Linked DNA regions of Homo sapiens: all the other regions are reported to be linked to region 1. Evidence: microRNA targets listed by miRTarBase, many of them from high-throughput screens and not tested one by one. Region 1 holds a microRNA gene; each other region holds the end of a gene's coding sequence.

Evidence for each region. Region 1 holds the annotated microRNA hsa-miR-3127-5p (AUCAGGGCUUGUGGAAUGGGAAG, at 1,698-1,720, shown strand). A microRNA usually pairs through its seed, bases 2 to 8, with sites in the 3' UTR of a target mRNA and lowers its output. Matches are read on the target gene's strand: a 7mer-m8 pairs with bases 2 to 8, a 7mer-A1 pairs with bases 2 to 7 and ends in A, and an 8mer does both.
Region 2: the mRNA of CREB3L2 is a reported target of hsa-miR-3127-5p. The part of its 3' UTR that is shown has no 7-base or 8-base seed match.
Region 3: the mRNA of CTDSPL2 is a reported target of hsa-miR-3127-5p. The part of its 3' UTR that is shown has no 7-base or 8-base seed match.

What each region holds. Positions count from the first base shown.
Region 1 is chr2:96,796,591-96,800,782 of GRCh38, forward strand. MIR3127 (microRNA 3127) reads left to right here and starts at 1,688; the gene lies at 1,688-1,763. CNNM4 (cyclin and CBS domain divalent metal cation transport mediator 4) reads left to right here. Exons shown (of 7, transcript NM_020184.4): 2 at 422-565; 3 at 923-1,057; 4 at 2,467-2,636; 5 at 2,962-3,058. RefSeq lists an enhancer at 4,121-4,192.
Region 2 is chr7:137,876,766-137,880,957 of GRCh38, reverse strand. It overlaps CREB3L2 (cAMP responsive element binding protein 3 like 2), which reads left to right. Exons shown (of 12, transcript NM_194071.4): 12 at 407-4,192. The coding sequence ends at 482. Among named protein-coding and RNA genes, the nearest start is that of DGKI, 32 kb to the right of the region's middle. RefSeq lists enhancers at 860-1,593, 1,594-2,325 and a silencer at 1,341-1,635.
Region 3 is chr15:44,523,217-44,527,408 of GRCh38, forward strand. It overlaps CTDSPL2 (CTD small phosphatase like 2), which reads left to right. Exons shown (of 13, transcript NM_016396.3): 13 at 893-4,192. The coding sequence ends at 958. Among named protein-coding and RNA genes, the nearest start is that of EIF3J-DT, 12 kb to the right of the region's middle.

The DNA of each region.
Region 1 (4,192 bases):
TCTCTACAAAAAATAAAAGAGTTAGCCAGGCATGGTGGAGCACACCTGTGGTCTCAGCTACTCGGGAGGCTGAGGTGGGAGGATCTCTTGAGCCCAGAAGTTGGCGGCTGCAGTGAGCTATGATTGCGCCACTGCACTCCAGCCTGGGTAACAGAGCTAGACCCTGTCCTTCCTCCACAAAAACAGAGAAAAACAAAAAAGTGGTCCTTAACGACATGCTTTTAAAAATTACTTTTAGTTTTCCTTTTCATAAAAGCAATGTCTGTTTGCAGTAGAAACGTCAGGAAAGATGGAAAAGATAAAAACCACCATGACCCCATCCTGGTGACTTATGACCCTACGTCTAGAGTTAATGTTTTGGTTGAGGGAGTCTCATGACTGGCCTCTGGGCTCTTGTCTGACTTGCTGCATTGTCCCACAGGGAAGTCCCACCTGGCCATCGTGCAGAAGGTAAACAACGAGGGTGAGGGTGACCCCTTCTACGAGGTCCTGGGCCTGGTCACCCTGGAGGACGTGATCGAGGAGATCATCAAGTCGGAGATCCTGGACGAGTCCGACATGTACAGTGAGTCCAGCCTTCCACAGGGCCCAGGACCCCTTTCCTGCTTGGATCGAAACTTGGTGTCCCTAGCTGGAAGGGCCATAGTGCAGGGACACAGGAGGCCTAGCATCCAGAGGCCCAGTGGCTGGGTGCCCTGCACTGGCCGGGGTGAGCAGGGAGCAGGTTGCTGAGAGCAGTGCCCGGAGGCTGCCTTCACCCTCGGCCTTTGTGCCTCGGCGTCAGCCCAGGACCCTGCCAGCCAGAGCCTGCTGCTCCTGCGTGGGACTAGGGGCTGGAGAGCAGGAGCTGCGGGGCGGGTTCCAGTCTCTTCCTAAGTCCTCAGGGGTCTGTGTTCTCAATTCCACGCTCTTCTTCCGGCAGCTGACAACCGAAGCCGGAAGCGGGTGTCTGAGAAGAACAAGCGTGACTTCTCTGCCTTCAAGGATGCGGACAATGAGCTCAAAGTGAAAATCTCCCCGCAGCTCCTCCTGGCCGCTCATCGCTTCCTAGCCACAGGTAGCATGAGGAGGACCTTCCGGTCTTGGTGGAAATACGGTCACGGGGGAGAAGTCCTGGGTTTCCGGCTGCTTTCCCCCCATAGGACGAGGGCTGCAGCAGGTGAGGGGTGCAGAGACAACACAGCCACCCCTGGAAGGGGCCGGGTATCTGCTCCACCCCTGGGGATCTCCCTGCGATTCATTTGCCATTAATGGGCGGCTACTGCAAACTTCTAGGAAGCATCCAAGTTACTATATTTAATAGTTTGGGAAATAATGACTAGGCACTATGGCTTATACCTGTAATCCCAGCACTTTGGGAGGCCGAGGCAGGAGGATTGCATGAGCCCAGGAGTTCGAGACCAGCCTGAGCAACATGGCGAGACCCCATCTCTACAAAAAATACAAAAGCCAGGCATGGTGGTGCCCTCCTGTAGTCCCAGCTACTTGGGAGGCTATGAGGTGGGACAGTTGCATGTCTGTGGTCCCAGCTACTCAGGAGGCTGATGTGGGAGGACCGCTTGAGCCCAGGAGTTTGAAGCTGCAGTAAGTTGTGAATGCACCACTGCACTCAGCCTGGGCCACAGAACAAGATTCTGTCTCAAAAATAACAAAAAAGAAAATAACCACTGAGGTGGGCCCCTAGGCTGGCCAGGCCCATCAGGGCTTGTGGAATGGGAAGGAGAAGGGACGCTTCCCCTTCTGCAGGCCTGCTGGGTGTGGCTGGACCCCTCGTGTGCTCACCCACTCTGAGGAGCTTGCATCCAGCTCTGCTCTTACTCTCCAGCTCTCCCCTTTGCAGACGTGTGCTGGTTCCCGCAGGAATTCACTTCTAGTTCAGAGACATTTCTCTCTTTTCAGCCCTGATTCAAAGCTCCACTGGGGACTTGGGTGACAGGTTCTGCTCTGCCCGCTCTGTCCCCCTCTTCCCCTGGCCCAATTCATCTTCCTTCCCACCCCTTACTTGCTAAAGGGGTGGCAATTCCCTCTCCATTATTTTTCCTGTGGGATATTGATGCTGATGCAATAATTATAGTCTATATATTTTAGTATATATGGACAGCACATATATACTAAGTGCTGTCCATGTGCTATCCCATTCACCCTCACAACCACCCTGTGAAGCTTTTACCCCCATATTACAGATGAGGAAACTGAGATGCAGGTTAAGTAATTTGCCCAAGGTCATGTGCTGTTCTTGCAGGAGCCACTGTTCAAGCCCAGGCAGGCAGGCAGCCTTGTATCCAACCAGTCAGAAGCCAAGCGTGCTCCCTCCCCAGGGAGGTGCAGAACGAGGGCCGGCCGAGCAGGGCGGGAGTCGTCTGAGCACAGCGTGGCTGCTGTGGTTGGGGTGGAGGCACAGCAGTGATCGAGCTTTAGGGCCACCTGGCCAGCCCCGTGTGAGGTCTCTTCTCTCTCCTCCTACAGAGGTCTCTCAGTTTAGCCCCTCCCTGATATCAGAGAAGATCCTGCTGCGGCTACTCAAGTACCCAGATGTCATTCAGGAACTCAAGTTTGACGAGCACAATAAGTACTACGCCCGCCATTACCTGTACACCCGAAATAAGCCGGCCGACTACTTCATCCTCATCCTGCAGGTGAGCCCGCTCAGCCCTGGGCCTGCCACCTGCTCCCCCTGGCACTGCAGCAACCCCCAGGCCCTCTCTCCCACCTGCTGCGGAGGTGCATGGCTTCCCTGCCTGGGGAGCCTGCTGCCTGCCCTTGAGCCCCGCCTGCCCCACGTGGCCATCCTCTCCCTGAGAGGCCACTCTTGATCTCACAGGTCAGGCCCCTGAGCTCTCCAGGGCTCCAGTACCGGCCCTTCCTCCTGCCCCACTGTCCCTTGTTCCTCACTCCCCATCCTGCCTCATCCTTTGTTTCCTCCCTCACTTGGTCTCTAACTCCAGCCCTGTGTTTTTTCAGGGGAAGGTGGAGGTGGAGGCAGGGAAGGAGAACATGAAGTTTGAGACGGGCGCCTTCTCCTACTATGGGACTATGGCCCTGACCTCGGTCCCCTCCGGTGAGTTGTTGGGCATGGTCTTTGCTGCCCTTTGGCCCCCCTGCAGCTGGGGAGCCATGGACCGACACCAGAACTGAGCATGGGCCCGAGAGCTCATAGCCAGCTGGCTGGGGCAGAGGGAGGCTGGTGAGGCGGGAGCCGCCAGGGCCTGGAGCGGGTGGTGTGGAAGAGCAGAGGGAGCTGCCACTTTGGATGGGGTCCAGAAGCTGGAGGGGAAAAGAGGAGTGAGGGATTTTAGAGTAAAGGCCTGGAGGCAGCGGAGGGCATGTCCAGAGGTTGTGAGGAGACCAGCCTGCTTGGAGAGGAGGCCTGTGGGGAGGAAGGCCCAGGGCCCTGCTCCTGAGGACAGGAGGGGAGTCTGAGCATCCAAAGTGACTGGGGTCAGGAGCCAGGCCAGGGCCTGTTTGCCAGGGCAGGCTGCAGATGGGTTTGGCTTTTCGGAGGACGCGGCTACTGGGTTTTGGTTAGAGGTCAGCTCCGATGGAATAAAGGGCCTTGGGGACAGACAGAAGGGAGACTGGGCACCCTCCGAGAGGTGTTATGGAAGGTCCGGGGATGCGCCACTCTGGCCGCCCCAGTGCCCTCTCCTGTGCTGAGTGGCTCAGGCTTTCCCCGCAGAGCCCCACAGACAAGGCCCCGCAGGCCCAGGTCTCGCCAGCTCATCTCCTCGCTCCTCTCCAGGCTTCGGTCCTGGGGCGAGGTTGCTGCAGGGTAGAGAGAGAAAGTCCACTTTGGTGCTGGAGAACAGGCCACGCCAGTGGGGTACGAGCTGCAGCTCCCAGAGAACCTCTGTGCTGTGCCTCTCACTGTCCTTTGACAAAAAGGACCCCGAGGGGGAACGGGGGTAGGGCACCCATGAATACTGACACCCAGCTTGGCTTATCCACCATGTCCTCGGCCCCTCCACCAGATGAGTGGGGCATGGCAGGCTCCCTGGGCAGGGGACAGACAGGGCCCCAGAGCGGGGCTCTGAGCAGGTTAACCCTATCAGATGCCTCAGGCCTGGGGATGACTTCCTGTGCCTCCAAGAGCAGCTGTTCTCTGTTCAGTTTGAGGAAATCTCATTCAGAAGGGCGGGCAGGCACGGGAGGCTTCCCCCAGGCACTGTTTGTGCAGTGAAGCCTCAGAGGCCCG
Region 2 (4,192 bases), not on the chromosome of region 1:
ATTGTTAAAAATCTTTATCTGGATTATTAGCTCTTCTAGGCCAAGGATCAGCTCTTATCATTTTATTTTCTCCTTCCCTGAGTTTAGCATAGGGCTAAACATCCTAAGTAAATAGAATAATTTAATGCATCTCATAGCAGATCAATATCAAGCCACCATGATTATCCTTAGTAGGGTTGGGATGCCTTGGGTGTAGATAAAGGTAGGAATGTGGACTAGTGGAGAGGCTGGTAGCAGGGGACTTTGGAAACAGAGAATTGCTACTAGGAGAGAAAAGGACAAGAAACATGCCCAGGCCGTCTCACCAAGTTGCAACCCCTGAATGATTGCATCACGCTACAAAGCATGAGAATTGTAGCTAACAGCTGGTGACTAATACTTCGTTTTCCTTTTAATGCCTTCACAGGGTCAGCGCCAAACTGGAGGGGAATGAAACACTAAAAGTTGTAGAACTCGACAGAAGAGTGAACACCACTTTCTAAAGAGGCTGCCTGCACCCCCTCCCTTTCCCTTAACTCTACTTTTACATCCCCAAACCACCTTTGTCATCAGCTTTTCCTCTTTGCCACTGGATCTTCATGGAGACATGGGCAAGCATTAGTGGCTTCAGATTGGAGACCAGCCTGGGACTTCCCTGCAGTGAGAGAGCATCTCCCCCTGGTCCATGCCCCTCCTGTGCAGAAGGGAGCCTGCATCCCTCCCTTCCTTTCTCTTACTGCCATAGGAAATTATTTTAGGGGTTGGAGGTGGGACAAGCAGGCTTGTTTCCACCAATAGTGCCAAAAAGATATTGCCTAATGTGCACCTGTGAGGTGTAACCCCCCGCTTTGGAGACGAGATGGCTCTTGTTCAGTCAAGACCCCAGACTCTGGCCACAAAAATGCCATAATGCCTGTTGGTATTTGGCAAAGCACTGACCCGTGTCCTCCGTTGCTCGCACTGGGGTCTCTGGTGTGAACACCCCCGACAGCAGCCCTCCGCCCACTCTGCCCCCTGGGAGCCCTCGCTGGATCGTCTCGTCTCCTGCAGCAGCACTGGCAGGCGAGGGCTCTCGTTCATATTCTCAGGCCGCAAGTGCAATGCCTGAGGGGATCAGGCTTTTCTACTCCAGGCAAACCTGCCCCATCTTGTCGCTTTTAGGACCTCCCACAACCTGGTTCCCCACACATCCATAGTTCTGCCTCCCCAGCTTCTCCTCCCCAGTTGTAAATAGTATTTATTAGCTTGCCGAGGCTTCCTGCTAGCAACCACACTGAAGAGATCGATGCCTCCTTTCAAGCTAGCCAAGTTTTCTGCGAGCCTTCAGAGCTAGGAGGGCACCCTAGGCTCTGGGATCCCGTGTCTTTCCAGACAATGTTTTGTTTCCTTTCCTTTGTTTTTTCTTTTAACTGGAATAATTACCATTGAAAAAGAAGTTCCTTTGAGCATGTATGTGTCTGCCTCTAGGATGAGCTCAGAGCGAGAGATGACACAATGCCTCACTCAGGCCCCGGGCTCCCTGGCCACAAGCTTTTTCTATCCTGTTTTCATGACAGAGAAGGGGAAGCCCTGTTCTGACAACAGACATTTCAGACAACCTTGCTGGCTTTCCACACCTGCCTGGCCCCCTCCTCCCTCCACACTTCCACTTTGTCCTCCTCGTCCCCTACCTCAACAAAGCAGGGTGGGGTAGGTGACATTTGTGTATCCACATTCTTACCTTTGGTAGTCAGGTTTGGCTACTTTGCAGCTCGCCCAAAGAGATACAACCTAATCCCCAACCTACTTTTAGTTTTTTTGTTTTTTTTTTATGGTTAAAAGTAACTTTTGTAGTTTAAAAAAATCTTTCCTCTTTCATATAAATAAGAAGTGGAAATTGCCTTTTTATTGTGTAATGTAGAAAACCCTCAAGTGTTTTTTCCGAGCTTGGGAAAGATTTTGTGTAGGAAATGTGCATAGAGTTTGTATTTTATTTTTATTAGCAGCTGAAATGCCTTTGGTTTTGGCTTCTCTCTCTCCCTCTCTCTCTCTGTCTCTCCTTCTCTCTCTCCCCCCACCACCCACCCCCACACACGTCATCTGCATTGTTATTGGAGCCTGTACTTAGAGGGATTAAGCCCACACCCTGGCTTCCATTCCATATCAGGTACAGGATTTGATGTTATTAACATTTGTCGTCATACCTCATAAGTCGGTCCCTGCCTTGTCTGTCTAGGCCCATTTGGGGCTCCCTGTGAGTGATTCCCCTCTCTCTGCTATGCTGGAGACGGTTCCAGCCTGGAAAGCGGCCAAGTTCATCTTCTCACTGTGAGTGGAAGCTGGATCGGGCCCCCGTAGTCCTGGCAGCCCTGTTGTCTGGAGGGTTCTTGTTGTCCCTCCCATTAGCCAGGGCGGAGACTGTCTGAGCTGTGCAGGAGGAGGGTTGCTAGTAGGTTCTGCTTCTGCTTCTCTCTGCTCCACTGTCTGCAGCCCAGATCCTGTTGGGCCTGGCTGGTGTCTGGTAACCATGGGCCTCCACTGACCCATCCCTCTCTTTTAAACTGTCAGGTCATTATCAGGCATAGGCAGCCTATAGGGCCCAAAGAAGGCAAAAAGATAAGATTTACTCAAGTAGCATTTGGGCAATGAGGAAGGAAAGGTTTCAAATTTAGGGGCAGAAGTGAGAGAATGAGCCAACCCATGTACCTGCTGCAACTGAACCAGACTGGGTTTTCAAGGCTCCCAGACGTAGAGTAGGAAACGTGCTCTTCTAAATGAGGAGGGAGAAGATAAAGGAAACTTCTAGCCCCTGTCCTTAGTGCTTTGAGGATTTTATTTTCTCCCTTACTACGCTTGCTTGACGTCACTCTCTCTCGACCTCCAAACAGCAGGACTCTTTCTCTGGGAAACCATCCTTCCAAAACGGAATCTATGTAGACAATGGGACGTTAGGCAGAGAGCTCAGATGGCCCTTTTAAGGGGGCTCCAAGAACCAACATCACTGCTCTTTTAGATAAACCTCTGCCCTCCACTCCTTGCTTGAGTGGGTTAAAGGAACTAACAGTTGTCCCTTTAGGAGGACAAAATGGGGTCAAGAGGACACAGAAGAGTTGTATAGCACCAGATTGGTTCCAAATAGTTAATGGATGTGTGCACATTTTCTGTTCAGGGATTAAGACCAGAATATCAGTGGATTTGTTTTCCCCACCAAGTGGCCTCTTAGACTAGTCATTAACTTATGATTAGCTCTAAAGATTTCAAATAGTGGCAGACAGTGTCTTCTGAATGTAAGTTTTGAGAAATACGAGTCTGTCAGAGCGGCCATAAGCCATAAAGAGTCAATCTCTTAATTATATTTTTCATCATGTAAACAAGTTTCCCATTTCCCTTTCTTAGATTGCACCAGTGAAGGAGATGTTTTGCAAAGATTCAGAGAACTAATTTTTCACTGGATAAGACCTGAGTAACCCAGACCCCCCACCGTGGTTCTTTTCACAGCCCTCGACTTTGCACTTAAAAAGGGATATTGTAAATGAAAGGCTGCAGTGCCAGTTTTAAGAAAGAATTTCTGTGAAGTGTGAGGACTCTGGAGTCTAGCTCACATAAAGAGAGTGTTATATAAAAATCCGACAGCTGAACTAGGTTGCTCTTTTTTGGCAGGGAGTGGGGATGAGATTTGACACCAATATGGGCAAAATTAGATAACCTTTTGGTTAATATAAATGATTTTGATTTGGAGGCCTAATTTGTAGATTGTGAAAGCAGCTTTTAGTTTAACTTATTCACAGACCCCTTATAATTACCATGTTTTTTTTTTTCTTCCTAAATCTCTTGGTTCAGCTTGTGAATCTTACGTGCCCGTAAAGTTGGGATGTTGAATTGGCTCTTCTTTGTTCTGGCAGTGAGTCAAGTGTCCAGCATTTTTTCATAAGTGTTTTTTAAAATTGTTCTCCAGCATTTTATGGCTCCTCCCTCCCATGTCCTCAGACCCAGCAAAAGCGTAGAGGCAGAATTAGAGGCCTCTCCAGGCCAGCTCCTCTGCCCACATGTCATACAAGGTGTGAATTTGAGCACAGTCCAGAAATGGAGACATCCCACCCCCAGTTGAATAATGGCCCATTCATGCCAACCTTGCCAACACGGAGAGGGCAGAGATGCACTAGAAGACCTTCATCCTCCCCTTCCTCTGCCCCAAGTCACTACAGTTGGTTCTATTGAAGCCAGTCTTTAAGAA
Region 3 (4,192 bases), not on the chromosome of region 1:
GAACTCCTGACCTCAGGTAATCTACCTGCGTTGGCTTCCCAAAGTGCTGGGATTATAGGCATGAGCCACTGCACCCAGCAGTAATCCCACCATTTTGGAAGGCTAAGGTGGGAGGATTGCTTGAGGCCAGGAGTTTGAGACTAGCCAGGGCAACATAGTGAGACCTCATCTCTACATACATACATACATACATACATACATACATACATACATACATACATACATACATAAGCAAGCAAGCTTGCTGGGCATTGTGGTGTGTGCCTATAATTCCAGCTACACAGGAGGCTGAGGTGGGAGGATTGCTTGAGCCCAGAAGTTTGAGGCTCCAGTGAACCAGGATTGTGCCACTGCATTCCAGCCTGGGTGAAAGAGCAAGACCCTGTCATTCATTCATTCATTCGTTCATTTATAAATAAACAAACAAACAAATCTTCTTGGGAGGCCAAGGTGGGCAGATAACCTGAGGTCAGGAGTTCAAGACCAGCCTGGCCAACATGGTGAAACCTTGCCTCTACAAAAATTACAAAAAATTAGCCAGGCATGGTGGTGGGCGTCTGTAGTCCCAGCTACTTTGGAGGCTGAGGCACAAGAATCGCTTGAACCCAGGAGGCAGAAGTTGCAGTGAGCTGAGATTGTGCCATTGCACTCCAGCCTGAGCAACAGAGCAAGACTCTGTCTGAAAAAACAAAAATTTAAAAAAGAAATCTTCAACGAAATTCTTTTCAAAATCTTAAATTTAACTGCATCTGTGTAGTATCTCTATTTGGCAAATAAAATATGTCATAAAATAAAAACTGGTATGTTTTCTCTGCAAGGTAAGAATGTATGTTATGAGGATCATATCTTTGAAATTTTATGCCTTTTTAAAAATTGTCTTTTTTCCACGCAGAATGAAGATGTTCGACCACACATCAGAGACAGATTTCGCTTGCATGATTTGCTGCCCCCAGATTAAGTACAAAGACTTGTCAAATCACTGAAGGGGGAGAGAATGCAGGACCCTTTTGGACTAAGACAAAAACATTGCCATTACTGTTGAAATTTTGCATTTTTGTACCCCGTCTTGCTTTTCTTATCTTTGGTGCCCAATAATAATTAAGGGTTACAGAAAGAGACTTTATCTATCTCAGATCGAATACATATAGTAGGTAGGCTAAAACAGAAGAGTCTTTAGAACTAGTGCAACTCCAGTGAAATTTTTTATGTACAGGACATCTGCAGTTTATAAAGAATTCTGTTTCTGCCACCAGCAGTTTGACCTGTAGTCACACAGGATTTTATGATAATAACAGAGATGAAAATGGACTTTTATTTTCTCTCTGTTTGGTGCTCTAAGTGGGTTTGTAGCCACTTTTCTGTTACTTTATGATTCTCATTTCAACAGGAATGGCCAGTAAAAGTTGTTTTATTTTTCCTGTTAAGGTTTATAACCTTTTTACATTTTTGACCTGTATTAGATTAGAATTTCATTATGCATTCCTTTTAGTTGAGGCGCTTCATAGTTTTCTGGAGATAGTCAATTTTTAGTTTTTTATTATACATTTGAATGGCCGTTTTCCTGCTTTGTCTGCCTGCACATTGTATATTTGTTTAAAAATATTCTCTACTTTTAGTCTATGTAAGTTTCATTTAGAAAGACATGCATTTATATTTTGTTTCTGTAATATTCTACTGTAGGTGAAATCTTTTCAAAAATCAAGAGACTGGGTAGATAAGAATATATGAATGACTAATATACAAAAGATTTAAACCATTGTGATGGCGTATATTCTCAAATGGTAATATCTTGCAATGGCACACAGATTTAATGGATAAAGGTATACCTCAGACTTCACTGTGCTCACAAATCTTTGAGGAGAAAGTTTGGTCACCTGTTTGGCTTGATTTAGTTACTGCTGCCTTTGGTTTTCTCCAGGAATGAAGTATTCAGCACAGTGACTCAGTATTTTTAGTTATTTTGCATGGGCTGGTAGTACCTCTGTTATGCTCTCAGTTACAATCAATTTAAAACTGTATAACAGTCTTGGTACCTAACAGTAGCTATGCATAATCCTGTGGCACAGTACACTCCCAAGCCACCAATGCAGTTAATATGCTCTCATAGTGGTTTTTCTATGCTATATGAAAATAGTCTTCAAGCCTTGGTTCTCTAATGCAGCTACCACAAGAGGTTGATATTTTTATAGTGGCGTGTAATCTCCTTTTCGGGAGGCTTTTTATGGAAGGTAGAATTTGTAAAAGTTCGTATGCTTTGCCTCTCAACTGCATTAACATGCCACAGGCTCAGACTGTTTTTGTGTAAAGGATGTCAAAGAACGGCACTTTTTCTAAAGAGAAGTTTGATATTTTGTATGCTTGTTAAGAAAGTACAGTATTGGAAATTAAAGGTGGACAACTGATAATTGAGGAGTATGTCAATTAATTTTTTATGTATATTACCTGTTTACTTGTACAACTTACTGTACAAATTACATGCAGCTTCATTTTCAAATGAATCCTTAAAATAAGGAAATCTTTTTAGGAAAACATTTAATTTTTGTATTTTTGATTTTAAAGGCATGAGTTATGTCAATTTTCAGTGTATTAATGAAGATTTTAACTTTTCATCAGGTTGAGTGTTTTCTTACTATATTATCTGTTGTGTATGTAGTTAGCATATTGTGTCACTGAACTGTTTAAAAATCTAGCATGTAGAGCAAGCCTGTTTTGTGGAAAATCCTTATTCATTAAAAAAATAATCATGGCAGATTTTCTGCAAAAAAAAAACAAAAGCATTTGCAATTCAGAATACTGATTTTTTTAATTTTATTTAAAGAAAGGTATTTTGCTTGCAGGAAAAAAATACTACAGATTCATTTTAATGAGAATCTTTGAAATGTATTTATCTTTAGGGCATCTGGGCATCTTTATGCTGTTTGTCTTCTGTCTTTCTTGAAATAAAATGTACATACGTTACCTTTACATATGCTCTTGCTCAAAATTGTGAACCTAGTTACATTTCTCCCTGCTCCCTTCCTTTTTATGCTCAAACAGCGAAACCCAAAACTTAAAAGATCTGAACTTTCAGCATGCATTCTGATTGCTGAAAGATTTCCTGATTTAGTGCATTCTCAAAAGGGCTTTCCCATAATCTAAAGGGAAATGTAAGCACCTATACTCTTGTGCCTGTGGGCACTTCAATAATAAAAACCAACTTTTTAAACTAATCATCTTTTATCAATGATAAAGTTGTTTTCAGTCCCACACTAGGAGAGTTCCTTTAAGTCAGCTGATCAAGCATAAGATACTTCCGTAAAGAAATAAACTAAGAAAATTTTTTATGGCTTGAGAAAATTCCTTGAGGCCAAATTAATATATTTTTCTTTGTTATTTTATTTGAGTCATTTTAAATTTGTTAATACAAAATTTAAGATAATTTACAGAGACAATTTATCCAGCTTCCTTCTACCTTAATACAATGTTTTGTCTTCCCATTATCCTCTCTTTTCTTTATCTGTTGGTAGATGTAAAAAACTTCCATTTAGTTAATCGGAGGTGTGTATTTTTTAAATTGAAATGTGCCCAGCCCCTTCAGCTCACACAGGAAACATGAACTCTTAAAAAACTGACTAGTAAATGCAGGAGAGGTGGATACCTGATGAGACACAGCGAAAGTGACCTGTATACACATTACAACTCTGGAGTACATATTAAAGTCGTGCTATTTCCAGTGGTAAATGTCTGACTTTTAAGACATTCTTTTAAATATTTGTATCATTGTTAGGATGTTTTAATCAGTTGTTTTTTAATTCCATGTAATATATGTAGCCCTCATCAGATTTATATCACCATATTTCTCCTTGTGTCCTAAGAGAATTGATGACAATTCGTAACCATAAATTGTTTTATATTAGCTAGTATGTATATTTATTTTTACCCAATGGCTTTATCTGTTTCCCAAAATTTGTTTGGGATTTGTTGAAAGCATTGTGTAACTTCTATAAACGGCTATTTTCTTGTAACTGTCAGTGAAATGAATGTGTACATTGTTTTCTTGTATTTCTCTGGGTTGTTTTTTGTTTTTTTTTCCAAGGGTTAACATAGAATGTTTTTTTTAAAAAATTATCTTTGGCCAATGACTTTTTCATCTAGATCTTACTTTCATTCAACCTTCTAAAGAAGTTCGTTTCTCATTGTTTTGTTCTGTCAA